4 linked regions of the Homo sapiens genome follow. The protein of the gene in region 1 purifies or fractionates together with the protein of each later gene. This does not show direct contact. Each region holds a gene or a part of one and is shown on either strand. Other genes may lie near its edges.

Region 1 (7,024 bases):
TGTTTTCCTAGTTTTGTAAGAGAAGACTTAGCCCTTAAGAAAAGAATTAATAAGAATAATTACTATTTGGCTGGGCGCGGTGGCTCACACCTGTAATCCCAGCACTTTGGGAGGCAGAGGCAGGCAGATCACAGGGTCAGGAGATCGAGACCATCCTGGCTAATAGGGTGAAACCCCGTCTCTACTAAAAATACAAAAAATTAGCCAGGCCTGGTGGCGGGCGCCTGTAGTCCCAGCTACTCAGGAGGCTGAGGCAGGAGAATGGCGTGAACCCGGGAGGTGGAGCTTGCAGTGAGCCGAGATGGTGCCAATGCACTCCAGCCTGGGCGAGAATGCAAGACTCCGACTCAAAAAAAAAAAAAAAAAAAAAGAATAATTACTATTTGTTAACACCAGTAAAGAGGACAGCATTGATTTTGGAGGGTAATTAATAAGTTGATCAGTAATACCCTTGGCACATGGAAGAATAATTGCACTGTTGATATTAAGAAGTCACTCATAGGAAATGTCATTTTTATCAGCATTTTTTTAATTGAAATGATTAGTCTTTACATGGGAGGAAGCAGCCTCTTACCTGCATAAGGATTTTTGAAATGCTCTCAGTAATTCAAAACCATGTCCAGATGTTTAAATTACTACATGTAATAGCCTTATACCTATTGCAGTTTTCTTTAACATGGTTCAGCACTTTCTCAAAGGAAATTTCAATTATTTTTCCTCAAACGATAGAAAACAAAATGAACAGGAGCAGGCTGAACTCGATGGAACCAGTGGTCTGGCTGAGTTGGACCCAGAACCAACGAATCCTTTCCAGCCAATAGCATCTGTAATCATTGAGGTATGAATGATGGCAAATGTAATTTTTGTATCTTAAGTTATAAGTTGGAACTTGGAAAAGAAGGTGGAAAGTTGGGAAAGGAGGCAGGGAAACAGATGTGTTTCTTCTGAGAGATTATTTCTATAAGAAATTAAACATGAGAGACTGATTAAAGGTTTACTGCTTTTTCTTACTCTTAAATTACCTTTGAATCTAGTGTGAAAGGGGGAATATGACTTCAGAATTAAATGACAATAAATAAATTTGACTGTAGCAATTATTATAGTTGCTGTGTTGACAAATCTATTCTGTCATTTATTTCATATAGTAATAACATATTTACTCTTATTTACATTTTCTGTGTTTCTGTATTGCTGTTACTGTCCATCTGCAATATTTACTTAGAATGCATTAGGGTACATAAACAATTTTCTATTTTTCCAGGATACTTAAGGATGTTTGAAACTGCAATAAATTCTCCTATATCTGAATATCATTTATTTCCATTTTAAATCAGAAATTTTACCAACATTAATTTGTAGATTTTAATTATGAAGACGTTAAGGGGTTGTGTGTGTGCGCGTCTGTGTTTTTGTTTTCATTTTCTGCTCATGTCCAGAGTTTGCATTGGCTCTGCTTTTATGGCTGGCAGCAGCGATGCCTCTTCTGAGGCATTGCTTCCTAAACCTTAGGCTGACTTCCTGGTCCTACCTGGAAGGTTTTTTTTTTTTTTTGTCTCCATTCTATCAGATATTATATTTGTCAAGTTTTGTTTTATGTTCTTTTAAAAATATTGAGAGAGAAGAGGTCAAGTTGTACTTTTTACTTTGAAACAACAATTATTCTCTGTGTATAATAAGGCTTGCTTTATAAATAATGGCTAATTATTTTATAGTACCATGGGTATAAATTGTGTAGAAGGCTCTAGTGCTTCTCCCAGCACCGTATTTCCCACAATGTATAGAAGTGAATAATAGTGGTGTACGACATAGTATATATCACATATAGAAAGTTCCCAAATTAATAAGTGGCATGGGGAAAGTACACTTAACGCTTTGAAACTACAATTTCAAGAAGATGGCCAGTAAAGAAATAAAAGCAAATTAGCTATAGTTTTTTTTTTTTAACCATACAGATTTTCTCTTTTTTTCCCCACAAAACTTTTTTAGCATGTTTCTTGGTACAGAAGCACCTAACATTTTTTTTTATTATTACTGCAGATAATTAAAATGGTGAGATATTGGAAGGTATTGGTTCCAGAAGAGACAGACAGATCAATGGAACGAATATTAATAAACCTATTTATGTATGAGCATTTTAGTACAAGATAAAGATAACATTTCAAATCTGAGAGAAAAAAATAATAGAACAACTTAATAACCATTTAGAAAAAGGAAAATTATTGAATATTGTATACCCAGTTAAATTCCAAAAGTATCAAAAACTTAAATACGTTTTAAAAAGTGAAAGTCTTCAAGTTACTAGTAGATAATATAGATAAGTCTTTATATGTGCTTGGAGGAGGAAAAAATTTCAAAGCAGGACAAGCAAGCCACAAATCATAAAGGAAAAAGGTGGATAGATCTTATACTACCCAATTTTTAAAGAGCTATTCTACAAAGTTAAAAAGCAAAAATGAAAAGAAGTAAACTCTAGTGAGAAATAGAACACATAGTCTTATGTGACTCTGTGACTAGTCCTAGTGACACGTATGCACAAAAGAACTCTTACAAATTACTATGAAAATAATGAGAATCTAATAGAAAAGTGGGCATTGGGTTACCAAAGGCAGTTTCCTAAAAAAAAATTAAAAATGTCAATAAGTGGCCAGGCACGGTGGCTCACGCCTGTAATCCCAGCACTTTGGGAGGCCGAGGTGGTTGGAGTTCAAGACCAGCCTGGCCAAGACGGTGAAACCCTGTCTCTGCTAAAAATACAAAAAATTAGCCAGGCGTGGCACGAACCTATAATCCCAGCTACTCCGGAGGCTGAGGCAGAGAATTGCTTAAACCTGGAGGGGTGGAGGTTGCAGTGAGCCGAGATCGTGCCACTGCACTCCAGCCTGGGCGACAGAGCGAGACTCCATCTCAAAAAAAATAAAATAAAATAATTCAATAATAGTTCATTTTTGCTGGCAATAAAAATTTTAACTTAAACTCAAATGAAAATAACACTAAGTTAAATAAAAATATGTATTAATACGGCAGAGATGTAAAAGGTCAATCATGATATGTGGTATTGAATATGATGTAGAAAAAAATCACTCTCCCAACCCTTTGCCTGAGGTTCATTGATTCATTTTTTCTGAAGGGAAGTTTGTGACTATATGTGACATTTTTAAATTTGCCTACCCACTGACTCAACAGTTCTACTGTTAGCAATTTAATCTAAAAAAATTAAAAAAAAGCTATTAGGATGATTCTGTTTTTTAAAATAGTGAAAAATTGGAAATACTTTGTTCATTGATACAGAATTGGTATGCTATAAACATTCAAAATAATAATTGATGAAAATAATTGTATCTAACATTTATGTAGCATTTACTATGTGTAAGGCACTGTTCTGAGCACTTTATATATTCATTGGCATGGAAAGAAATGTATATTCTTCAATAAAAACTTCAATTCTTTTTTGTTTAAACAACAAATACATAAGTATATATAGATACATATATTTATGTATGTTTCTGGGTGATGTATGTCTGTACATGATATAGGTATGTATGTGTGGGGGTTGGCAGAGAAAATCATCTCTTAGTGATTATATACTGAACAGATTATATACGGAATAATACAGATGAATAGTAGTCATCTCTAGATTGTGGAATTACTGGTAATATTTGTTTGCTTTTGTTATACTTTCTGTTTTACTGAATGTTTGACATTTAGCATCTTTTAATGATGTATTCATGAAATCATTTTTAAAATAGAAGTCTCACAGTGTCCTTGAAGTTACAGAATCCTGTTAAGGTATTTGATTTCCTCTCCCTTAAAACTATCTTAGATAAAACCATCATAGTAAAGATAATGTATTTTATTTTTTGTTAGAATGAAGGAAAACTTGAAAGAGAGAAAAAAAACCAAAAAATGGAGAAAGACAGTGATGGCTGCCACCTGAAACATAAAATGGAGCATGAGCAAATAGAGACACAAGGCCAGGTTAATCACAATGGCCAAAAAAATAATGAATTTGGACTAGTAGAAAATTATAAGGAGGCATTAACACAGCAGTTAAAGAATGAAGATGAGACAGACCGGCCATCATTGGAATCAGGTAATAAATCTAGTTATTTAAAGTAATTATCTTATGTATATATAAATAAAACTTATACTTCATCTCATTTTTTATGTTTGTTTTTACAAACGAGTACTTCAATATTTTTCTGTCTTCAAATGCCATATTTACCATGATTTTCTCAAGGTCTTTTATTATTCAGTTTGTTCCTAACCTGTTTTTCCATGACTTAAAATGTGGTCCTTTGTAACTTATAAGGATTTCAGCAGAAAATTCCATTTTTATTTTCATAAATTTGGGATACAGCATAGCTCTCAAGAATCCTTGGAATAGCCCTCCCCCTCCTCCCCCTCCCCCCTCCCTCTTCCCCTCTCCCTCTTCCCCTCTCTCCCTCCCCCTCCCCCTCTCCCCCTCCCCCTCCTCCCCTCCCCCTCCCTCTCCTTCCCTCCCCCCTCCCCTTTCTTTCTTTCTTTCTTTCTACAGTCTCCCTCTCTTGCCGAGCCTGGACTGTACTGCCATGATCTCGGCTCACTGCAACCTCCCTGCCTCGGGCTCCTGTGATTCTCCTGCCTTAGCCTGCCGAGTGCCTGGGATTCCAGGCACGCGCCGCCACTCCTGACTGGTTTTTGTATTTTTGGTGGAGATGGGGTTTCGCCATGTTGACCGATCTGGTCTCCAGCTCCTGGCCTTGGGTGATCCGCCCACCTCGGCCTCCCGAGGTGCTGGGATTGCAGACGGAGTCTCGCTCACTCAACGCTCAATGTTGCTCAGGCTGGAGTGCAGTGGCGTGATCTCGGCTCGCTACAACCTCCACCTCCCAGCCGCCTGCCTTGGCCTCCCAAAGTGCTAAGATTACAGCCTCTGCCTGCCCGCCACCCCGTCTAGGAAGTGAGCAGCGTCTCTGCCTGGCCGCCCATCGTCTGGGATGTGAGGAGCCCCTCTGCCCGGCTGCCCCATCTGGGAAGTGTGGAGCGCCTCTGCCTGGCTGCCACCCTGTCTAGGAAGTGAGGAGTGTCTCTGCCTGGCCGCCCATCATCTGGGATGTGAGGAGCGCCCCTGGCCGGCCGCCCTGTCTGGGAAGTGAGGAGCGCCTCTGCCCGGCCGCCCCGTCTGGGAGGTGAGGAGCGCCTCTGCCCGGCCGCCACCCCGTCTGGGATGTGAGGAGCGTCTCTGCCCAGCCGCCACCCCATCTAGGAAGTGGGGAGTGCCTCTGCCCGGCTGCCCTGAATGGGAAGTGAGGAGCGCCTCTGCCCGGCCACCCCGTCTGGGAAGTGGGGAGCGCCTCTGCCTGGCTGCCCCGTCTGGGAAGTGAGGAGCGCTTCTGCCTGGCCGCTCCATCTGGGAGGTGAGGAGCGCCTCTGCCTGGCCGCCACCGCATCTGGGAGGTGAGGAGCGTCTCTGCCCGGCCGCCACCCTGTCTGGGAAGTGGGGAGCGCCTCTGCCCGGCTGCCCCATCGGGTAGGTGAGGAGTGCCTCTGCCCGGCTGCCCATCGTCTGGGAAGTGAGGAGCGCCTCTGCCCGGCCACCCATCGTCTGGGAGGTGAGGAGCGCCTCTGCCCGGCCGCCCCGAATGGGAAGTGAGGAGCGCCTCTGCCCGGCCGCGCCGTCTGGGAAGTGGGGAGCGCCTCTGCCCGGCCGCCCCGTCTGGGAAGTGAGGAGCGTCTCTGCCTGCCCGCCCCTCGTCGGGGAGGTGAGGAGCGCCTCTGCCCGCCGCCGCATCTGGGAGGTGTACCCAACAGCTCCGAAGAGACAGTGACCATCAAGAACGGGCCATGATGACGATGGCGGTTTTGTCGAAAAGAAAAGGGGGAAATGTGGGGAAAAGAAAGAGAGATCAGATGGTTACTGTGTCTGTGTAGAAAGAAGTAGACATAGAAGACTCCATTTTGTTCTGTACTAAGAAAAATTCTTCTGCCTTGGGATGCTGTTAATCTATAACCTTACCCCCAACCCTGTGCTCTCTGAAACGTGCTGTGTCAACTCAGGGTTAAATGGATTAAGGGCGGTGCAAGATGTGCTTTGTTAAACAGATGCTTGAAGGCAGCATGCTCATTAAGAGTCGTCACCACTCCCTAGTCTGAAGTACCCAGGGACACAAACACTGCGGAAGGCTGCAGGGAGCTCTGCCTAGGAAAACCAGAGACCTTTGTTCACGTGTTTATCTGCTGACCTTCTCTCCACTATTATCCTATGACCGTGCCACATCCCCCTCTCCGAGAAACACCCAAGAATGATCAATAAATACTAAAAAAAAAAAAAAAGAAAGAAAGAAAAAAAAGAGTTAAAATGCCAGAGCCCCCAACTGATCTGTAGATTTAAGGCAATTCCAAACAAATCCCAGCATGAGTCTTTGTAGATATAGGCAAGTTCATTATAAAATATATGTAAAAGTAAAGGACTGGAATACCCAAAACAATTTTGAAGAAAGATCAAGGTTAAAGACTCATACTACCCAATTTAAGACATACTATAAAGTAGTGGCCGGGCACAGTGGCTCATACCTGTAATCCCGACACTTTGGGAGGCTGAGGCGGGAGGATCACGAGGACAGGAGATCGAGACCACAGTAGAGACCCCGTCTCTACTAAAAATCCAAAAAATTAGCCAGGCGTGGTGGTGGGCGCCTGTGGTCCCAGCTACTCAGGAGGCTGAGGCAGGAAAATGGCGTGAACCTGGGAGGCAGAGCTTGCAGTGAGCCGAGATGGTGCCACTGCACTCCAGCCTGGGCAACAGAGCAAGACTCCATCACAAAAAAAAAAAAAAAAAGAAAAAAAAAAGACATACTATAAAATAAAACCACAGTGATCATAACAGTATAGTATTGACTAGAGGATAGACACAGAGATCAATAAAACACAATAGAGATTCTAGAAATAGATCCCCAAAATATGGTAATTTTAATGAGTTTCATTGAGGTATAATTGACTTACAACAAACTGCACATATTTATAGTATAAAGATTGATACATTTTG
Region 2 (7,024 bases), on another chromosome or scaffold:
GAGCCACCGCGCCCGGCTGGATATAAGCTATTCTTAGGAATTTGGCTGCATAAGGGAAGGATGTATGGGACAGTTAGATAGAGGTGGTTGCAGGATCAAGAAATAAGTTTTTGAAGGTAGGAAAGAATTGAACATGGTAACAGACTGAAGGAAAGGAGAAAGTTTAAAGATAATTGGTAGCAGTGAGGTTAATGCCACAAAAAAGATGGGATCAAGGGTAAATCAGAGTAAGATTGATCTTGAATGAGAGAAGGAATGGCTGTTGAGACTGGAGGGCAGGATGGATGTAGAGAAGTTTATGTGCCCCAAAGGTGATGGAGTTCAAGTTGTAATTTTTTTAAATGAGTCATCTGCTGAGAGTGGCAGGAACAGAGGTTAAATAGAAAAGTAGTTAAGGGTGAGAATCATCAAGTAGAGAAGTATCTTAACAAGGATAAATCATTTCTGAAATGAGGGTCCAGCTAAGATTTGTGACTATCACTTTGCAGTACCCCAGTCTGTACAGTTGTATGATTTCCATCAGCAATGTTCAGCACTTCAGATTGGATGTAGAGAAGGGTTTCTGATTTTGCCAGATGGGCTGGAGAATAGTTCAAGGATACAAATTAGTTGATAGTGCTCATGAGACACTAATTTCTTGAGAGAAGGAGGAGAGTTCTTAAACACCCTTGTCAAGGTATCACTAGTGACTTCTTGAATGGGGACTCCATTGGACATTTCAGTTTTCATCTTACTTGAATTTCCAACGTAAATGGCATGGCTCAGATTCCTGCCTTCTCTTGGCGTCTCTGACACACACTCCTGGTTTTTTTCTTTGCTTTCTGGGCCTTAATTTTCAGTCTCTCATACTAGATTTTCCTCTTGTGTGTAATCTGTATGTATTGATGTTCCTCAGGACAGAATCTTGGGCACTATTCTCTTTTTCTCCATATTCTTTGTCTAGATAAGTATCTTCATAACTATTTTATATGACCTACAATAGGACATACATTTTTATATTGTAGCCCAGTAAACACATATGTGTAAATTTATGTAAATATAGCTGAAACAAAAATTTACTGAAACAATGTTTACCCTTCATATTTTCAGTGAGCTCTTTTTGTTTAAATTTTATTTCACGTTTAAGTATCTTGGTCATAACCTACAAAATTGTTTTCAGAACTTACTAACGGATGTGACCAACAATTTGAAAACTACTACTCTAAATTATGAGACAGAATTTTAAATAATGTTATATTCTGATGAATAAAGGAGAGGGCTGATAAACTGGGAGAGAATGAGTGAATTAAGGAAATGGTTTAAAGGCAGGTGTAGCAGAATGAAGATGAGAAAAGGGTAGGAGAGGAGAAGACCAGAGAATAGAGTATTTCAATTAAGATGTTTGAGGTGAAGCAATTCCAGATGATGACAAGCTCCATGTCTCGCCATGGCTATAAATTACTGAAATGGAGTTAAGATCATTGCTAAAGTTGAGGTCAGGGAACTGTGAAGCTGGAGTGTTAGGTATTGGATCTAGTATCTAGATGGAAGTCATCCAGGGTGATGGTGAGATTGGAATAGAGAAGCTGTGAACTAGGTACAAAAGACTTTAGTAAAGATAGAGGAGAGATTAGGAAGTCACTAATTACCAGCAACCAGGAAAGATCAAGGCAATATTGTTGCATTCCCAGATCCTCAGAAGAAGTGAATCTTGTTTTTTTTTTTTTTTTTTGGGTGGGGGGATGGAGTCTCGCTGTGTCGCCCAGGCTGGAGTGCAGTAGCGCAATCTCGGCTCACTGCAAACTCTGCTTCCCAGGTTCATGCCGTTCTCCTGCCTCGGCCTCCTGAGTAGCTGGTACTACAGGCACCCGCCACCACGCCCAGCTAATTTTTTGTATTTTTAGTAGAGACGGGGTTTCCCTGTGTTAGCCAGGATGGTCTCCATCTGCTGACCTCATGATCCACCTGCCTTGGCCTCCCAAAGTGCTGGGGTTACACGCGTTTGCCACTGCGCCTGGCCTCTTGTTAATTTTTTTAAAGGTGTGGAAGAATGTTTTGAAAGTGACCCTGAGGAGCAAGAAAAGTGCCACCTCCTTTTCTTTAAAATTGTGGGACAGGAAGCTAAAACACTTGGACTACCGAAAGTGTTACTCTCAGGGGAAATCAAGATTCTGTTAAAGTTAAGAAAATAGAAAGTATTTGTAACAAGATTCAGAATATAAGAGTTAATCATGGACCAGAAAGTGCAGAGAAAGGATTAGGGGCAAAGAAAGATGTTGGCTATGATGGGAGAGAAAATTTACCAGAGTATGGGATGAGAATACTAAAGAAATAGATAATAGAGGGGCTTGCATTTTGGTAAGATAATAGAAAGATGAGGAAGGAATGTTGCAAGAAACAATCTCATAGTTGTAAATGGAGCACGATGTCATATTTGAACAAAATTAGCCTTGTAGTGGTACACAGAACGGCAGTTTGCAAGAACAATTGTTGTGAATTAAATGTAAGGGTATGATGGGTCATTATTGTCTTGCTAGAGAAGACATCAAAGGATTGAACTATTTATTGTTTCCAAACAGCGATTAAAGTGAAGAAACAATGGCCAGCAATCACAAATCTTCAGCAGCTCGCCCTGTTTCAAGAGGTGGAGTTGGGTTAACAGGAAGGCCTCCTTCTGGGATACGACCCCTATCAGGAAATATTCGAGTGGCAACTGCAGTAAGTTTGAAACAAATCTATTTACTTTGGGAGGCCAAGGTGGGAGGACCACTTGAGTCCAGGAGACTGGGGCTTCAGTGAACTCTGATCATGCCACTGCACCCCAGTTTTTGAGTTTTTGAGACTGTCTCAAAAATCTGTTGAATGCTTGTGCATATATTGTGGTAGAAGTTGGAAATCCCCTCTGTAATAAGAGATTCTACTTTGTTGTTTCTTTATTTCATAAGCATATTATTAAACATGTTTGTTTTGTTTTTTGGAAAGCATCTGGAAATGTAAATGTGGAAGAGTGTTTGAAAGACACTCTGGGAAGAAGATGCCTGCTCCTGCAGATACTCAATTTAAAGCTGCAATAATTTTAGTTGAATAGTGTATTGGGGCCAGAATAAAATGAAATGGAATAGACCTCAAATAGAATCAAGCATATAAGAATTTAGTTAATGATTAATGTGTGTTTCAAATTAGTTGGCAAAACATGGAGCATTCAATAGAACATTCCAATAATTGTTAAACCATTTGTTTAAAAGTATTTTTAATCCTCTCTTATACCTTTTATCAGAATTCTACATAGCTTAGAAACTTGGTATTTCAAAAATGAAACCATAAATGTAGTAGAGGAAAATGTTGGCAAGTATTCTGTATAAACTTGATATGGGCTAGGCTTTCTAAACATGACAGAAATAACAAGTACTGAAAAGGAAAATATTTTTATTATATATCTGAATTTACAAAAAATAAAACACCATAAAAAATTAGAAATGACAACTGGTAAAAACATTTATAATATATATACCATATATAGGATCAGAATCTTAAAATTAAAAGGTAAACTTTACTAATTTTTTTTTTTTTCTTTTTTTCTTTTTTTTATTTTTATTTTTTTGTTATACTTTAAGTTTTAGGGTACATGTGCACATTGTGCAGGTTAGTTACATATGTATACATGTGCCATGCTGGTGTGCTGCACCCACTAACTCGTCATCTAGCATTAGGTGTATCTCCCGATGCTATCCCTCCTCTCTCCCCGCACCCCACAACAGTCCCCAGAGTGTGATATTCCCCTTCCTGTGTCCATGTGATCTCATTGTTCAATTCCCACCTATGAGTGAGAATATGCGGTGTTTGGTTTTTTGTTCTTGCGGTAGTTTACTGAGAATGATGATTTCCAATTTCATCCATGTCCCTACAAAGGACATGAACTCATCATTTTTTATGATTGCATGGTATTCCATGGTGTATATGTGCCACATTTTCTTAATCCAGTCTATCATTGTTGGACATTTGGGTTGGTTCCAAGTCTTTGCTATTGTGAATAATGCCGCAATAAACATACGTGTGCATGTGTCTTTATAGCAGCATGATTTATAGTCCTTTGGGTATATACCCAGTAATGGGATGGCTGGGTCAAATGGTATTTCCAGTTCTAGATCCCTGAGGAATCGCCACACTGACTTCCACAATGGTTGAACTAGTTTACAGTCCCACCAACAGTGTAAAAGTGTTCCTATTTCTCCACATCCTCTCCAGCACCTGTTGTTTCCTGACTTTTTAATGATCGCCATTCTAACTGGTGTGAGATGGTGTCTCATTGTGGTTTTGACTTGCATTTCTCTGATGGCCAGTGATGATGAGCATTGTTTCATGTGTTTTTTGGCTGCATAAATGTCTTCTTTTGGGAAGTGTCGGTTGATGTCTTTCGCCCACTTTTTGATGGGGTTGTTTGTTTTTTTCTTGTAAATTTGTTGGAGTTCATTGTAGATAGATTCTGGATATTAGCCCTTTGTCAGATGAGTAGGTTGCGAAAATGTTCTCCCATTTTGTAGGTTGCGTGTTCACTCTGATGGTAGTTTCTTTTGCTGTGCAGAAGCTCTTTAGTTTAATGAGATCCCATTTGTCAATTTTGGCTTTTGTTGCCATTGCTTTTGGTGTTTTAGACATGAAGTCCTTGCCCATGCCTATGTCCTGAATGGTAATGCCTAGGTTTTCTTCTAGGGTTTTTATGGTTTTAGGTCTAACGTTTAAGTCTTTAATCCATCTTGAATTGATTTTTGTATAAGGTGTAAGGAAGGGATCCAGTTTCAGCTTTCTACATATGGCTAGCCAGTTTTCCCAGCACCATTTATTAAATAGGGAATCCTTTCCCCATTGCTTGTTTTTCTCAGGTTTGTCAAAGATCAGATAGTTGTAGATATACGGCGTTATTTCTGAGGGCTCTGTTCTGTTCCATTGATCTATATCTCTGTTTTGGTACCAGTACCATGCTGTTTTGGTTACTGTAGCCTTGTAGTATAGTTTGAAGTCAGGTAGTGTGATGCCTCCAGCTTTGTTCTTTTGGCTTAGTATTGACTTGGCGATGCGGGCTCTTTTTTGGTTCCATATGAACTTTAAAGTAGTTTTTTCCAATTCTGTGAAGAAAGTCATTGGTAGCTTGATGGGGATGGCATTGAATCTATAAATTACCTTGGGCAGTATGGCCATTTTCATGATATTGATTCTTCCTACCCGTGAGCATGGAATGTTCTTCCATTTGTTGTAAACTTTACTAATTTTTAAGTGCTCTTTCTGTATTAAGACCACAAGCCTTATGTCCAATCAAAATTTCATGACATTTCTTTTGATGCTAGGGGTAATATTATAAAACTATTCTAAAACTCATCTAGAACAATACCACAAAAATAAGAAAAAGTACAGTACTCTAATGTAAAATATGTTATAGACAATGAGTGAAACAATATTCTGATTGCCACGGCACCTGGAGGTAAACTCTAGTAAATGTTAAAGAGCTTAATATAAGAGAGTGTGTCATAAATAGTGAATAAGAGAAACACATCATATGAGGAAAAGTTAGATGAAGTTTATGAGTTGATATTCTAAGCAGAAGGATATCCTGTAAAGATAATTATTACATTTTCGTTATCATTATAATGTAAAAATTGGGAAACAACCTAGAAGACTTACAACAGGTGAATCTTAAATAATGATATGTATATCCCTATAAAGGCTGTTAGATAGTCATTACAAACTACTTTCAAGATATTTCAGAAAATAATATACTTTAACAAAAGTTTAAAAGTGATATCAATTTAACATAGAAAACATAAATTTATAAATACATAGAATTGAAATGGAAATAAATGAATAGACAAAAATGTCCATAAATTTATCTGATTTTCACACAGGTGATTTCAACTGAGAAGGTGCAGAGGGCCAATACTCAACCTCCTACAGTAGGCTAAGTGCAAACTACAGATAATGTTGGGTCCTATGGTTAACTCATAAGAAGAGCAGCATTTTTTGGAGGGAATAATTTTGTTAAAGTCAGATTTTCCTAAAGTTTTCAGATTTTTTTTCTAGAGTTTCAGGTAATAATATTAGGACATCGTCATCAACTTAGACTGAAATAATTTTTCTGAAGTCTTCATACATAGGATAGTAAGGGTATCTTTTTCTTTTATTCCAGTAAAAATTGATAATTAAATATTTATAAAAAGAATCTGACATTTATTGGCCACCTACTATTTGCCAGGCACGTTATCTGTTTATTTGTAAAATTTTAAAATTTGTATGTATTCATGGGGTAGGTCAGTTGTCTTACATGCATATATTATGTAATGATGAAGTGTGGGCTTTTAGTGTACCCATCACCTGAATAGTGAACACTGTACCCAATATGTAATTTAGCAACCCTCACCTTCCTCCCACTCATCTTTTGTAATCTTTAGTGTCTGTTATCTCACTCTGTATGTCCGTATGTACCCATTGTTTAGCTCCCACTTATAAGTGAGAACATGCGGTATTTGACTTTCTCTTTCTGAATTGTTTCACTTAGGATCATGGCCTCTGGTTCCAACCATATTGCTGCAAAAGACATGATTTCTTTATTATGGCAGAGTAGTGTTTCATAGTATGTGTATATATATATATGTGTATATGTGTGTGTGTATATATATGTATATACATGTATACCACATTTTCTTTACGTAGCCCTCCATCTCCATTGATGGACAGTCAGGTTTTTTTTTCATATATTCGCTATTGTGGCAAGTAGTGTGATAAACATAGGAATGCAGGTATCTTTTTGAAATAATGATTTCTTTCCTTTTGCAGTGGGATTGCTGGATCATATGATAGTTCTATTTTTAGTTTTTTGAGGAACTTCCATACTGTTCTCCATAGTAGTTATACTAACTTACATTCCCCCCAACACTGTACAAAGGTTCCCTTTTCTTTATATATTTGTCAGCATTTGCTATTGCCTTTCTTTTGGATAAAAGTCGTTTTAACTGGAGTGAGATGATATCTCACTGTAGTTTTGATTTGCATTTCT
Region 3 (7,870 bases), on another chromosome or scaffold:
CTTTTTGTTAATGACATATTTTTGACTAAGGATCATGTTTGACTGATGTAATTTTTTTTTTTTTTTGAGACAGAGTCTCACTCTGTTGCCCAGGCTGAAGTGCAGTGGTGCAATCTCGGCTCACTGCAACCTCCGCCTCCCAGGTTCAAGCGATTCTTCTGCCTTAGCCTCCTGAGTAGCTGGGACTACAGGTGCGTGTCACCACTCCCGGCTAATTTTTTTTTTTTTTTGTATTTTTCAGTAGAGACAGGGTTTTGCCGTGTTGGCCAGGCTGGTCTAGAACTCCCAACCTCAGGTGATCTGCCTGCTTCAGCCTCCCAAACTGCTGGGATTACAGGTGTGAGCCACGGTTCCTGGCCTGGCTGATGTAAATATTAATGCAAAAATTGGAAGCTAAGATGAAAGTAACACTAATTAGTAGGAGTAGAATTTATTTCATATTAAAATGTATTGTGGTGTAATTTTTTTGTTGTCGTTGTTGAGACAGAGTCTTGCTCTGTCGCCCAGGCTGGAGTGCAATGGTGCCATCTCGGCTCACTGCAACCTCCGCCTCCCGGGTTCAATTGATTCTTCTGCTTCAGCCTCCCAAGTAGCTGGGACTTCAGGCATGCACTACCATGCCCGGCTAATTTTTGTATTTTTTTTAGTAGAGATGGGGTTTCACCATATTGACCAGGCTGGTCTCAAACTCCTGGCCTTGTGATCCATCCACCTCAGCCTCCCAAAGTGCTGGGATTACAGGCGTGAGCCACCACACCCAGCCTGTGTTGTAATTTTTATGGCTTGGCTAAAGCAACAGTTTTCAGAGTGCACCCTCCTTGGTGCTACTCACAGAGATGTGATGTGCTGTTGCTGCTTTCTAACTCTGCCTACTTTGTGACCTCTTAAGAGGATGAAGTTGATAAAGTAAACCAGTGTCAGTGGCTAAGTCTAGAAGACCTAGAAAACATAGGAATAGGTCCTGAACCTATTGCTCTTGCGATTGCACTGCAGACATCAAGAAGCAGGTGGCTATTTCCACACATTGAGATCTATAATTCGCAATCCCGAAGATGATGGAAAAAATACCCCTTGGTGCATTGCAGAGATGCTACAAATCACCAAGCAAGCCATGGGATTGGCTGTACCTTTAATTGAGAAAAAAAACTTGAGAAGAAGAGCAATAAAACTCACGAGGACATCATTGGTATCAGATCTCAAAACCACGGCTCTTTGGTTGAGGGAAACAATTTTTTAATGAGTAAATGTTCATCTCCAAACCAAAAAGTGAAGTAGACCGTATTCCCCAATGTAAATATTGGCAACCTAAGAAAGCTAGGAAATTTTACAAGACTTGAAACGAAAGTTAACTTCTTTTTTTCTTTTTTCTTTTTTTTTTAAGACCCAGCTATCAGAGACTTTCTATGTCTTAGCAGCCTCCTGATAAAGGAAGTCAAATGACCAATCAAGTTTTTAGTGAAGAAATCCAATCAGGCCAGGTGCAGTGGCTCACGCCTGTCATCCAAGTACTTTGAGAGGCCAAGGCTGGGGGATCACTTGAGGTCAGGAGTTTGAGACCAGCTTGACCAACATGGTGAAACACCTTCTCTACTAAAAATACAAAAATTAGCTGGGCATGGTGGTGCATGCCTGTAGTCCCAGCTACTTGGGAGGTTGAGGCAGAAGAATTGCTTGAACCCAGGAGGTGGAGATTGCAGTGTGCTGAGATTGGGCCACTGCCCTCCAGGCTGGGTGACAGACTGAGACTCCATCTCGAAAAAACAAACAAACAACTATTTTAGTTTTGATGGCTTAACCATTCATTCCCTATGTCTTCATGGTTAATTGAAGGTTACTGACAGTAGACAAAAAATGTATTCTCATTTGACTCTAATTTTTCCCATATTCTACTTGAACAAATTTAAAATGTTCTGCTGCCTATACACCCCGACATCTAGGAGTATTAAGACTAGTCAGTCATAAAATAAACCTGATACATCAGATGAATGCCAGCACCTATTCAATTTCGTTTTGCTCTGTTTTCAGAAATGTCAGAATAAATATATATTGGTTACTGGACATTCTAGAAGGAAGTCTTCAAGTTTTAATTTTTTTCCAGTGTGAGCATGCCTCAACATTTTGCATAGACTGTCAGAACTATTGAAAATTTAGGCTGGGCAAGGTGGTTCATGCCTCTAATCCCAAGCACTTTGGGAGGCTGAGGTGGGTGGATTGCTTGGGCCCAGGAGTTCGAGACCACCCTGGGCAACGTGGGGAAACCCTGTCGCTACCAAAACTACAAAAAGTTAGCCAGCTATGGTGGTGTGCACCTGTAGTCCCAGCTACTCGGGAGGTTGAGGCAGGAGAATCGCTTATACCCAAGAGGCGGAGGTTGTAGTGAGCGGAGATTGCACTACTGCACTCCAACCTGGGAGACAGAGTGAGACCCTGTCTCAAAAAAGAAAAGAAAAGAAAATTGTGCTAAAACTGGTTTTATGACAATAACCATGACCACATAAACCAAGAGTCTCCTCTGTAACCCACACAATAAGAAAGTTGCCCCCTCTCCCTCTCCCTCTCCCTCTCCCCACGGTCTCCCTCTCCCTCTCCCTCACGGTCTCCCTCTCCCTCTCTTTCCACGGTCTCCCTCTGATGCCGAGCCGAAGCTGGACTGTGCTGCTGCCATCTCGGCTCACTGCAACCTCCCTGCCTGATTCTCCTGCCTCAGCCTGCCAAGTGCCTGCGCGCTGCCACGCCTGACTGGTTTTCGTATTTTTTTGGTGGAGATGGGGTTTTGCTGTGTTGGCGGGGCTGGTCTCCAGCTCCTAACCGCGAGTGATCCGCCAGCCTTGGCCTCCCGAGGTGCCGGGATTGCAGACGGAGTCTCGTTCACTCAGTGCTCAATGGTGCCCAGGCTGAAGTGCAGTGGCGTGATCTCGGCTCGCTACAACCTCCACCTCCCAGCCGCCTGCCTTGGCCTCCCAAAGTGCCGAGATTGCAGCCTCTGCCCGGCCGCCACCCCGTTTGGGAAGTGAGGAGCGTCTCTGCCTGGCCGCCATCCCATCTAGGAAGTGAGGAGCGTCTCTGCCCAGCCGCCCATCGTCTGAGATGTGGGGAGCGCCTCTGCCCCACCGCCCCGTCTGGGATGTGAGGAGCACCTCTGCCCGGCCGCGACCCCGTCTGGGAAGTGAGGACCGTCTCTGCCCGGCCGCCCCGTCTGAGAAGTGAGGAGACCCTCCGCCCGGCAGCCGCCCCGTCTGAGAAGTGAGGAGCCCCTCCGCCCAGCAGCCGCCCCGTCAGGGAAGTGAGGAGCGTCTCCACCCGGCAGCCACCCTCTCCGGGAGGGAGGTGGGGGTCAGCCCCCGCCAGGCCAGCCGCCCCGCCCGGGAGGGAGGTGGGGGGGTCAGCCCCCCGCCCGGCCAGCCGCCCCGTCCGGGAGGGAGGTGGGGGCGGTCAGCTCCCCGCCCAGCCAGCCGCCCCGCCCGGGAGGGAGGTGGGGGCGGTCAGCCCCCCGCCCGGCCAGCCGACCTGCCCGGGAGGGAGGTGGGGGGGTCAGCCCCCCGCCCGGCCAGCCGCCCCGTCCGGGAGGGAGGTGGGGGGGTCAGCCCCCCGCCCCGCCAGCCGCCCTGTCCGGGAGGTGAGGGGCGCCTCTGCCCGGCCACCCCTACTGGGAAGTGAGGAGCCCCTCTGCCCGGCCACCACCCCGTCTGGGAGGTGTACCCAACAGCTCATTGAGAACGGGCCATGATGACAATGGCGGTTTTATGGAATAGAAAAGGGGGAAAGGTGGGGAAAAGATTGAGAAATCGGAAAGTTGCTGTGTCTGTGTAGAAAGAAGTAGACATGGGAGACTTTTCATTTTGTTCTGTACTAAGAAAAATTCTTATCCTGTTGATCTATGACCTTACCCCCAACCCTGTGCTCTCTGAAACATGTGCTGTGTCCACTCAGGGTTAAATGGATTAAGGGCGGTGCAAGATGTGCTTTGTTAAACAGATGGTTGAAGGCAGCATGCTCCTTAAGAGTCATCACCACTCCCTAATCTCAAGTACTCAGGGACACAAACACTGCAGAAGGCCGCAGGGTCCTCTGCCTAGGAAAACCAGAGACCTTTGTTCACTTGTTTATCTGCTGACCTTCCCTCCACTATTGTCCTACGACCCTGCCAAATCCCCCTCTGCGAGAAACACCCAAGAATGATCAATAAAAAAAATAAATAAATAAAATAAAAAAAAGAAAGTTGCACAGCATATTCCAACAAATATCAGTTTGGTACCTTTAGAGCCTTACTTTGTTGTAGTGATTATCAGCTGAAAATTATGTCTGTTGTAACTTTGGTAAGCATTCCACTTTGGTTATTTATTAGTGGTATTTTTTTTTTAAGTGTCAAGTGTCAAATCTTGGGACTATTAAAATACCATGGTAAGTAAAAAAAAAATATGGTCTGAGAACTGGTACCTATCCACGACATAAGTGCAGAAACTGAGAGTATGAGTTTGCATACTTTCAAAGTTACTCGACAGAGTTATTTCGTATATGCTAAAAAATAATAAGAAAAATCTGTACGTGTCTTTTCCATGTTTACATTTTTAAATTTCATTTTCCTAAGTATATTTTTGTGTATATTATAAAAGTAGTAGACTTCCAAGGACTAGGAGAACAACCTTAGATAGTAGAGAATCACCTAAACGACCTATATCTTCTTCAACAGCTTAAGCTGTGTACTGCGCTAGAGCCTCCCTCAATGAGGAACTACAATGCCCAGAATTCCCCCAAAATGCGTGAGCGACGTCCATTTCACCCACCTCGCCGCGACCCACCCTGGGATATGTAGTGCGTGACTTCCGCAGTGCACGCTGCGCCTGCCGGGCATTTTTTCCTGGTTTGGGGGCAAGGTCTCATGGGAAAGGTCATGTCTCTCGAAGAAAGGTTATAAACCCTGAGATATGAGGGTTGGGCGAGACATCCGAGCCTGTTTCGTTCCGTGTTGGGACCAGGAATAACCCTGACTTCTGAGCTTTCATAACCCCAGGATCCTCCAGAAAATTTGCGGCGCGCTGAGGGAAAACCTTGCTGGCAAGTCGGGACTGTGTGGCAGCGGCTATTTTTCTTTTCCCACCCAGCACGTTTTCGGGCTGGGGACATAGGGTTCAGTTGAGATACGGAGGCTTCCTTCGGGATATTGGGTTCTCTGAAGTGCGGATGGACTAGGGCAGGGCTGAGACCCCATTCATTCACTCATTTGTTTAGCTCTCCTTTATGCCCGGCGCAGAAGATACCCCTTAGGGTCCCAAGGCCCTTCCTGTAGTTAAGTTCCTTCCTTAAGGTCATTCAGCTGGGGCAAAGCTGGGGACTCGACACCTTTCTATGCTAACCATTGAGCTGCCTCCACTTTGAGCAGCTCAGTGGATGAATATAGTATCTTGAGGATACCTTTGATTTGTGCAGGGTTTTCTTGTGCAGGTTTGTGACCCAGGTCAGCTTAGGTCAGGATGCTGTACTGCTTGCCACAAAATAGCCTGTACTGTCGCGTCGTTTTTTCTTGTGAACAGACTGTTTGGCATAGCCGTAGAGAGGGGTCTGAGACATGAATTTAGTGATACAGCGTTGATTTGTTTGTGTAATGAAGCTGTTCAAGTGGAAAGAACTGAGTTGTAGTCCCTGCTTCACTAGTACTAGAAGGATTTTTTAAACCTTTTTGAACCTATTTTGCCTTATCTGTAAAATGGAAATAATATCAACCTGGAAGGTTAGCTGAGAGAATTTAATGAGATAATGTGTTTCAAACGTTCTTTGTAAATGGTAACATGTTGCAGAAATATTAGATTATATGACTTTAGTCCCTGCTTTTCTAACCATTACTTCTCAATTATAAATGTAAACATTTATAGCATATTTTTAAAACAAATTATTCTTTTTTCATAATTATCTTTAGTTCTTTTATTGTTTCAGCATGACTTGAAACATTACTTAATTTCTTAGTATTTCTTGATTGGTGCTTTAATTGTGTCGTTCATTGGTTAAAACCTATCCAAGGCCAGTAATGATTAAATTATATGACTTCTTTTATTTATTTATTTTCTAAAGAAAGGAATTATTTGAGCTCTTTAAGGGCACAAGAAAAAGGGGCAAGAAATTATCCTGAAAGCAAATAAACCTGAGACCATACTTCTGAAAAATTAAAAAAAAAAAGTATATATATATGTATGTATAAATATATATGGCTCTGAATTAATGCCTACACTTTTTAGAAACTTTGAAGGTGATTATTTATTTTAAACAATTTTCCTCTTTTTCGAAAAGACAGCTCTGAGTTTGTGGGCTTTTTTTTTCCTTTTATGGTAAATTTGAAAACTTTATGTAAATGTCAGATTTAAAACACTTTTAAAATGGGGTGCAGAAAGAAGCCCCTTTTTCTGGACATTTATTTTTTGATCAAATTCTGCTATCTGGTTTAGACTAAGAAAAAGTCTTTAGTTAATGCAGAAAAAATGTATTACTTTAATTTGAATTTTGGAATCATTTTGATATTAATGATGTAAGCATAACCATGTTAAACCAATTCTTTTATAGAAGCTGTACATTGGAATGCGTTTACAGTCATTGTAATGGAAGCAAAATACATGAAGGAAAAACTGTTATTTGTATCCCTGCTTATTGCACCTGACGACTAGTTGCAGATGGTTTTGTTTACCTAAGAAAACTTGTGATATAAATGAAAAAAACACCTGTTTTCCTAGAGTCATTGGTTACAAATATGCTTCGTCTAAGAGCTATTTGTCCATTCTCCTGGAGAGTGTTTCAATTTCGACCCATCAGTTGTGAACCACTAATTATTCAGATGAATAAGTGTACAGATGAGGAGCAAATGTTTGGTTTTATTGAAAGAAACAAAGCCATACTTTCAGAAAAGCAAGTGGGATGTGCATTTGATATGCTTTGGAAGCTTCAAAAGCAGAAGACCAGCCTGTTAAAAAATGCTGAGTATGTCAGAGACCATCCTCAATTTCTTACTCTTCATAATTTAGCTACAAATAAATTCAAATTAATGAATGACGATACCCTGGTGAATGTGTTATACGTCACACAACAGTAAGTAATTTACTTTTATATTTTATGGAATGATTATATAGTTTACATTTTAATTTTCTAAAAATCTCTTTATTTTCATTTTATTTATTTATTTTTGAGGAGTCTCTGTCGCCCAGGCTGGAGTGCAGTGGCATGATCTCGGCTCACTGCAAGCTCTGCCTCCCAGGTTCACGCCATTCTCCTGCCTCAGCCTTCCGAGTCAATGGGACTACAGGCGCCTGCCACCACGCCCGGCTAATTTTTTTGTATTTTTAGTAGAGACGGGGTTTCACCATGTTAGCCAGGATGGTCTTGATCTCCTGACCTTGTGATCCGCATGCCTCGGCCTCCCAAAATGCTGGGATTACAGGCGTGAGCCACTGTGCCAGGTCTAAAAATCTCTTCAAAATGAAAAATAATTTTTTTCACCAGTAGTTTTCCTGATAATCTAATTTTTTTGTTTTGTTTTGTTTTGTTTTGAGGCGGAGTCTTGCTCTGTCACCAGGCTGGAGTACAGTGGCACAATCTTGGCTCACTGCAACCTCCGCCTCCCAGGTTCAAGCAATTCTCCTTTAACAACTGTAATACTATTGTTAACTGTGGGCATTTGAAATTGGATTATTGTGGAGTTTTGTGAAAATGTGGTTGGCTGCAGATGAGGATATAGTAGGTAAGCAGTTAGATTTAAGATTAATGCCAGTCGGGTGTGGTGACTCACACTTGTAATCCCAGCACTTTGGGAGGCTGAGGTGGGTGGATCACCTGAGGTCAGGAGTTCAAGACCAGCCTGGCCAACATGGTGAAACCCTGCCTCTACTAA
Region 4 (7,356 bases), on another chromosome or scaffold:
AAGAACAAATTTCCCTTACCATTTATAGGCAATGTAAGTAACATTATGTTATTAAGTAAAATTAAGATACACTTTTAATCCATTTTAATCCATATGCTGTGCAATACCAAAACCTAAATTTTACTTCCTTTGATATTCAAAGTAAACAGGTATACTCATAACTTCAGATTAAGGCCAAATGTACAGCACCAGTAAAAGTAACCCACAAAGTTAAAACAAAAAACTACAACTAAAAATTAATTTAATTTCAGCATAGAAATCTGAACACCATGACATTTTTATTGTTACCTTTTAAATGCTTCGGCTGGGTTTCTCTCGCACTCCCCAGGCTGTAAGAGGCTTTGGACTGCTGGATCCCTTAGCTTGTCCTCATATCCTTGGAGTAGTCCACTGCGGCAGATCTGGGCTACTAGACCTCTAATAAACCCTCCAACACACAAAGTATCAGAGTCCTGGGCTTTGCAGAAATGAAAGGCCAAAGCTTGGCGATGTAAACCTCTCTGCAAACTTGCAGGTGAACTTGGCCATAAGAGTTCAGTACATAGGGCCGTCTTGCCACTGCCAGGCCCTCCTACCAACAACACACCCCAGGCAGCTCCCTTTCCAGAGACACCACTAGCATTATTCCCAGAATTCATTACAAGTGATGGTGCATTGACAGCACTATTGCAGCAGTTACTTTTCTCCTGGAGGCAATGCTGAAGCTTGTGGAAAACCCACTCCCTACAGTAAAACTGCTTCCCTTGCAGTAAACTGGTTTGAGCCATTTTGCAGACTTTCTCTTCCCAAGGATTAGTCATAACGGGTTTTTTATCTTCATTTGCTAGAGTCTGGATACATCAACACAGGTCTTTCCATCCATTATGACATAACTTGTATATTAAGTTGACTCTGAAGACAGAGTAACTAGTTACAGTAAAATTCAACAGCCACAGAGTTCCTCTGTCAACAGAACGTGCATGACTTTATTTGGTTCCTTATTCTTGATCAGCAGTCTATGTATTAGTTGTTGAACTGAGGGAGAAACGCCTGATTCCACAGCTCAGCAACACTTTTCCTAAATTTTAATGAGTCACATAACTCCATGGTTATAACTGGAGTTTATGTGATTGTGGATGTTTCAAGAACAGAGATGAGACAATACATGTGGAAAACTAAAGAAAAAACCCAATCTTTCAATTTGTACAAAATGCTTCTCCAGATTCCAAGTGTTAATTCTGCATCTGACAATTAGATTCTGAAAAGAGGTCCACTGCATTAAATGGCATCAGAGAGATTACATTTATACGGTATGAGGTACAGTATGTAAGTAGCTCTGTATTTCTCGTTGAAGGATGATCACTCAAGAGTACTAGATCGTGCCAGTTTCAGGCATCTGGGCAACTGCCAGGAACTGTTTCAGATTATAGTCTCTTATGTGGCAGAAATGACAACCACTGTTAACACCTTCTTAATTCAAAGCATTCATAATATGCATTTTTCAAGACAGCAGATTCTTAATGAACCTGTTCACAGGTTTCTTGGTTTTAAGACGTCCGGGTAATCAACAATTTCCACAAGTAACTAAAATAAAACAAACAAAAATACCTCAGTGCAAAATATCATATGTTAAAAACTTATTAAGGACAATAAAGGTTGCAGTGTACCAGTTAACGTAATCTCAAAAATCCACGTACTTCACCTTTGGCACTTTCAAAAAGTTGGACAAAAACCACTGAAATAATCACATTCTCCCTTCTGCATTTTTCTTCCTCATTGTTATGCTTCCCAAACAGCCACATTTTAATCAAGTTACCCAAGATTTTTGCAACTTCACCATAGCAAAGGAGGGGGGGAGAAACTTTACGCACATACAGTAACACCCTTAACTCCAGGCAAAACGCTCATTCACAGTAGACTGGTAGAACAGCGCCAGCTAAGGAAGCTCTATTAACTTACACAGTCCAGTCAGTCAAGGACTGTCTACTCCTCCAGCCACACTTCTTTGTTGATAATGTGCAAAAATCTAGGGGAAGATTACCAGGGTTGCAGCTGGATGGGAAACGGTTTAAAAAAAAAAAACAAAAACGATGGGGGATGACTGTTCTTATAAGAATGATAAAGCAAACACAAGTAAAATGTGAATCCTTCCTTCCTCTGGGCCAAGGATGGAGGTCAGGGATAAAATCTACCAGTCTGGCCGGAGAAAAGGCTGCTAGAGAGAAATTCCTTCCAAGACAGGAAAGGGATAAAGAGTAGAGTGCTTCGGTGCTGGTGGGTGTCTGCCCACAGGTCCGGCCTCCAGTTTCAGCTGACAGACAAAAGGAACTCCGGGATTCCCAGCGCCGGGCACCACCTTGGGTTGGAACCGCCCAGAGGAGCCACAGGGGAGCCACCTCAGAGAGGCCACGAGCGAAGGTGCAGCCTCCACACCGAGGTCTGCCCTTCCAGAGGCTGGGAGCGCCTCTGCACCCCGCCCCGCACCGAGATTGGGGTGTGTCTTTTGAAGGGGGAGGGGGTGACTGAGGTCCTTGCCAATCCCAGACGAGGGGTCGCCTCCCGGTCGGCTTCCGCCTCTGCGCTCCCGCCCCATGCCCCGCTCCCGCTCCCACCCGGCCGACGGCGGTGCGAGGGAAGAGGGCAAATCTGGGGCTCGAGGCCGGAGAGGGTGGGTGGTTGGGTCAGGTCCAAGCCACGGCCTCGGCCTCCCAGCTTCCAACCCGAGGGAGGGGCCTCGCTTCCACCGCCGCCGCCGCCCCCCGGTTACCTCGGCCCCAGCCGCCGCCGTGGCCGCCGCTGCCGCTGTTAGGGACTCTCAGTCTCAGACACTTGCTTCGCTGAGAAGTCGCTGCCAGCAGCGCTCCCAAGACTCCACTCCAACTGCAGCCGCCTCCTCCGCCGGGCCCGGGGCACGCTCCCAGCTCCGGATCCTCCTCTTGGCCCCCGGCGGCTGCCAGTTCCAGCTTTCCCAGCAGAATCGGTCGTGCTCGCCCCAGCCCCCACCGGCCAACCGCCGCCGCCGCCGCCGTCAGGGCAGTAACTGTCTCAGGCAGCCCCCGGCCGGCCGGCTCCGCCCCGCCCGCCCAGCCCAGACCCCGCCCCCGCCCCCGCCCCCGCCCCGCCGCTCGGCCTTTCTTTGCCCGCCGGCTCCGCCTCCGCGTCCTTCCCCTCCCCCACCGCGCTCTCCCGCAGCATCCCGTGCCTGGGCGTGTGCGGCCGCCTGGGACCCGCTGCCGGCGCGGCGGGGAGACCTGTCTCGGGGCGGCGTGGGGGCCCCGCCTTTCTCAGGGGAGGCGGAGAACGGGGCGGGGGCTGCGTTCTCACGTCTCCGAGCTCACGCGAGTCGTTGCCCCCACCCTCCCCGTCACCACTGGGCCCTGATCCTTCCTTTGTCTTCCAGGCCGGAGGGACTCGCCGGCTGTTGGTGCCGTATCTGCTCCTGGGAGGGGCAGTTGGGTAGGGGGAGATTGCCTCTTGCCTCTCTCTGCTCAACCCTTTTGCCTCTCCCTTAACCCCGTTGCTTCCAAAGCCACTTCGGGCCCCGTTCTACCCCTCAGTCGTCCGGTCTCCTTTCAGTCCATTAAATTCCAGGGATGCTTTTACTTTGGCTGGGACGAAGAGAAGGAAGGAAAAGACTGGGAAGAATGTTGCGAAAATAGAAATAGTGGGGGTATACAGCGACATTCCTACCAGCCTCATGAAAAGGACGTGGCCTCCATCAGATGGAGGTTGACAGCAGGCTTGACTGGGTCTCAGGCCCCTGCTCCTCAGGGCCACTTGATCACCCGCAGCGTCCACTAGGGGGGAAGGTCTTGGTCATGTGGCGTCAGGAAATGCCCTAGAGGGCCTGCTCACAGGGGCCTGTTGGACTAAGCATGTCAGTTGTTTGCACTTACTGGACCTGAGTTGCTTAGATTCCAAATTTCTCCCGGGAAAATAAGTATACCGTCAACTGATGGAATAGGAAATGTAGCATTTTTTATTTTAATTGTTTATGCTAAAATCCAGAGTGCTCTATTTCCCATTCCTCATTAACTTGCATGTGGTTATTTGCCAAAATATTAAGCCAGTCTCCCATCTAGTTTTAGAAATTTCATAGTATAGCTATCACAATAAGAAAGATGGATAAACAAATAGATCGTGTTTGTGCTTACTCTTTCATATTGTTTATTCGTGCCAATTGAGGTTTACTGATCTTAGTATTTAATTTTAATTCATGTACCCTGAATTTTGGGCTTCTTTCCTAAAACACAAGCAAAAGAGGCAGAGTATAAATTCTCCAGAATTAGGGGGATGAAAATTGATTTTTAAAAAGCTACAATTTTTATTTATTTTTGCCTAAGCTGTTTTAATTCCCACTTAGCTTGTTTGCCACGCAGCTTTATAGTCATTGAACAGGTTGACTCCTTCAGTTTCATGGTTGTAAAATTTTATGTTTAGAGGAAAATTTAAATGAGAAATAATGTATATCACATTATCATTTCTATTAAGCCGTTTGCTAACACAATAATTAAAATAATTTCTGCCCAGTAGAGAAGTTACCGAAACTTTTTGTTTAGTGGGCCTCATTTATGATAACTAAGCAGTATCATGGAATGCTGTTTTAAATAACATCAGCTGTAACTAAGCTGTAATTAATCTTCAGACCTATTTAGAATTTTGTTTTTTGCTTTAAAATTTATTTCACATTTTATTTTTATTGCTTTTTGCTTTTTTTAATAGAAAACCCTTAACAGTGACGTATATGTATATATACACACATATATAATTTTATGAAACTTCTTTTTATCAATTACCTAAATGTTAAACGTGGCATAAGCAGAATACTTACTCTTGGTACATATTCACATACTTTAATCAGTTTCTTAGTTGTATTTTCTCCAATACCAGATACTCGCATTTTTCCAAAGAATGCAATTTTTTTCAATGTGGCCTTTCTTATTTTTAATTTGTTCATAAAATTTCCTGAAATCATCACAGTTTCACATAAATTTGAAATTACTGACAGCTTTAACGAATGCTTCTCTGAAGACTATAATGTTTTAAATGGAAAATTAAGTGGTGAGATACGTATTAAGCTCAAAACACACTCTGCTAAATAAAATATATTCTCCATTCTAATTTCTCTATATTGAAATGTACAAATTTTTCAGTTCAAATCTTTTCCTAGCTGTTGTATTTTTTTAAACCTCACTCAGTTATATTGTGCAACAAGTGTTTTTACAAAACAAAGCTCATTATATAAGTCTTGAAAATGTACGTTTATTTTGATGGTATCAATCAAGTTTAAATACTACAAAATTATGTCATCTCAATTTTAATCCATTTAGATACAAAATATAGTTTCATCCAATTAAAAGCAACAGCTCCATCAAAAGATTCCACAAGTTGAGATATTCCAAAGCACAATTCTAAGTTTCAAAAATTACGTCTTTTATAATGTCTGTGTTTTCATCATCGAGTACATTCAGTTCCTTGTTTGGTAGAGGTAAATTTGAATTTCTTTATATTTGCAAGTTCTGTAATAATTATAGCAATACCTGAAAGCTACAAAATTTGAAATCTATGACTTTAGAGTTCTAATGATTTTACATGAAAGGCTGTGAAAATTTAGAGGACTCATTTTAGTCCTCTAAATTAACTTGTGTAAGTCACTCAGGTTTATTTACAAAGTGATGTTTTATGCTTGGCAGTCTTTCAGGTTATGCCACAAATTTAAAGAACTCTGCATTATACAAAAAGAGTTCAGCCTACTTGCTATACTCTACTACAGGATAAGTCAGTCTCTATTTCACATATTTCAGATATACCTCACATGTAATTTTCTCCATTTACTACTGATTCTCAGAAGTGGCTTCTTGCACGTGGAAGGCAGCTGCAGCAAGCCAGGGCACACTGAACTGCTATGCCACGTGTCTAGCAGGATCAGCAGCCTTGAGAGTTTCTCTGGTTACTACCAAGCCCAGGATTTGGTATATATTATATGTATATGTATATGTATATGTATATGTATATGTATATGTATATGTATATGTATATGTATATGTATGTATATGTGTATGTGTGTATATGTATATGTTTATGTATCAACCACCCATATCAAGCTATATTTTATTTTTTCAACTAGCAGTCTGCATACTGTCCTTCAAAGGATAGTTACTTTGAATCTGGAAAAGAGTTATTACTGGCAGCCTTTCAGATTTCCCCACAAATTTAAAGAACTCTGTTTATTTCATCTCATATACTATTTGAGGAGACCATGGCAGAAGCTGGAAATAACGAAGGTCCACCAAACCATTATTGTAATGCTACTATTAATAACATTGTTATGTTTACATAAATACACATTTTGTTAGTATGTTCACTGGACTTGATGTGGACCTAGACTATAGAAAAACTTTGATTGACATGGGAGGCATAATGATAGGAACGTCCAGCTGTGGCTACCCTCTTAAATACCCTTTTAAAAGAATGCTTATTTAAGCCTTACATTTTAAAAGTAATTGTTGCCAGCTGTATTCATTCCTGTTCTTGAAAACAAGCCTAAAAATAGCTGTTGCTTATAAAATGTGTAAGATATAGGCCTTTTCTTCAAAGAGTTAAACAAATCCCCAAATAAGATTTATTTTGCACAATTACCAGTGAAGGGAAATAAAGACTCATTGGCTATGGTTATTAGGTGGCTAGTTACAACGCTTCACCTTTACCCTTCACTTTTTCCCATGCTCCTAGATAGAGCAAAAGCTCTTAGTAGACCCCAAAATTACACCAACAGTACACATGACAGCATGGATCTGAAATTCATATTCTCTTTCACCTCAAATATGCAGCAAGAAATTTAAAGAAGCAAATTAGGATTATCTAACATGTCCCTCTATTGGATTCCCAGAACCACTTTTTCCTACCTTTTCTTCTATGAGTCTATATGTAGTTTAAATGACCTCCCTACACCAACCACGAAGTCACCTTTTCATCAAATCTCACCCTTTCATCAAATCTCAGATGCCAATAAATACCCTCCATGAAGTATTCTTTGAACTATATTTTAAATATCCAAGAACTGATGAAACTGGCTTAGTAATAACTCATATCCCCGAGTCCTGTGTCAGTCATATGGTCACACGCAATAATAGCAATAATTACATGTAATTATATTAATTTGAAAATAATTCAGTGTCATATGTGAAGGTAAACTTTCTCAATTATGTCCCCTATGCATCCTTTGACTGGATTTTGGTGAATCATTAGATAAATTAATCACTTGCCTTGCTGCAGATAATTTATTCCTTTGACAGATTCCCAAGTAAATGAGAGATACTATTTCACTTATTGTCCTCAGACTCTCTGTTTTGTAGAACCACATAGTATTTTTTCTTT

What was found.
Region 2: the proteins of ARL13B (region 1) and IFT74 purify together in Homo sapiens (affinity purification with mass spectrometry; 4 studies listed by BioGRID and IntAct, with this or other methods). This does not show direct contact.
Region 3: the proteins of ARL13B (region 1) and FASTKD1 purify together in Homo sapiens (affinity purification with mass spectrometry; 3 studies listed by BioGRID and IntAct, with this or other methods). This does not show direct contact.
Region 4: the proteins of ARL13B (region 1) and ANKRD50 purify together in Homo sapiens (affinity purification with mass spectrometry; 4 studies listed by BioGRID and IntAct, with this or other methods). This does not show direct contact.

Annotation. Positions count from the first base shown.
Region 1 is NC_000003.12:94,039,151-94,046,174, forward strand, and holds part of ARL13B (ADP-ribosylation factor-like protein 13B), read left to right. Parts: intron 1-729; coding exon 730-838; intron 839-3,864; coding exon 3,865-4,090; intron 4,091-7,024. UniProt on the Homo sapiens protein: Cilium-specific protein required to control the microtubule-based, ciliary axoneme structure. May act by maintaining the association between IFT subcomplexes A and B. Binds GTP but is not able to hydrolyze fit; the GTPase activity remains unclear.
Region 2 is NC_000009.12:26,959,391-26,966,414, forward strand, and holds part of IFT74 (intraflagellar transport protein 74 homolog), read left to right. Parts: intron 1-2,558; 5' UTR 2,559-2,577; coding exon 2,578-2,697; intron 2,698-7,024. UniProt on the Homo sapiens protein: Component of the intraflagellar transport (IFT) complex B: together with IFT81, forms a tubulin-binding module that specifically mediates transport of tubulin within the cilium. Binds beta-tubulin via its basic region. Required for ciliogenesis.
Region 3 is NC_000002.12:169,570,854-169,578,723, reverse strand, and holds the start of FASTKD1 (FAST kinase domain-containing protein 1, mitochondrial), read left to right. Parts: upstream 1-4,858; 5' UTR 4,859-5,055; exon of another isoform or gene 5,056-5,728; intron 5,729-6,552; 5' UTR 6,553-6,694; coding exon 6,695-7,071; intron 7,072-7,555; exon of another isoform or gene 7,556-7,720; intron 7,721-7,870. UniProt on the Homo sapiens protein: Involved in the down-regulation of mitochondrial MT-ND3 mRNA levels which leads to decreased respiratory complex I abundance and activity.
Region 4 is NC_000004.12:124,709,712-124,717,067, forward strand, and holds the start of ANKRD50 (ankyrin repeat domain-containing protein 50), read right to left. Parts: upstream 3,022-7,356; 5' UTR 2,747-3,021; exon of another isoform or gene 1,564-2,746; 5' UTR 801-1,563; coding exon 289-800; intron 1-288.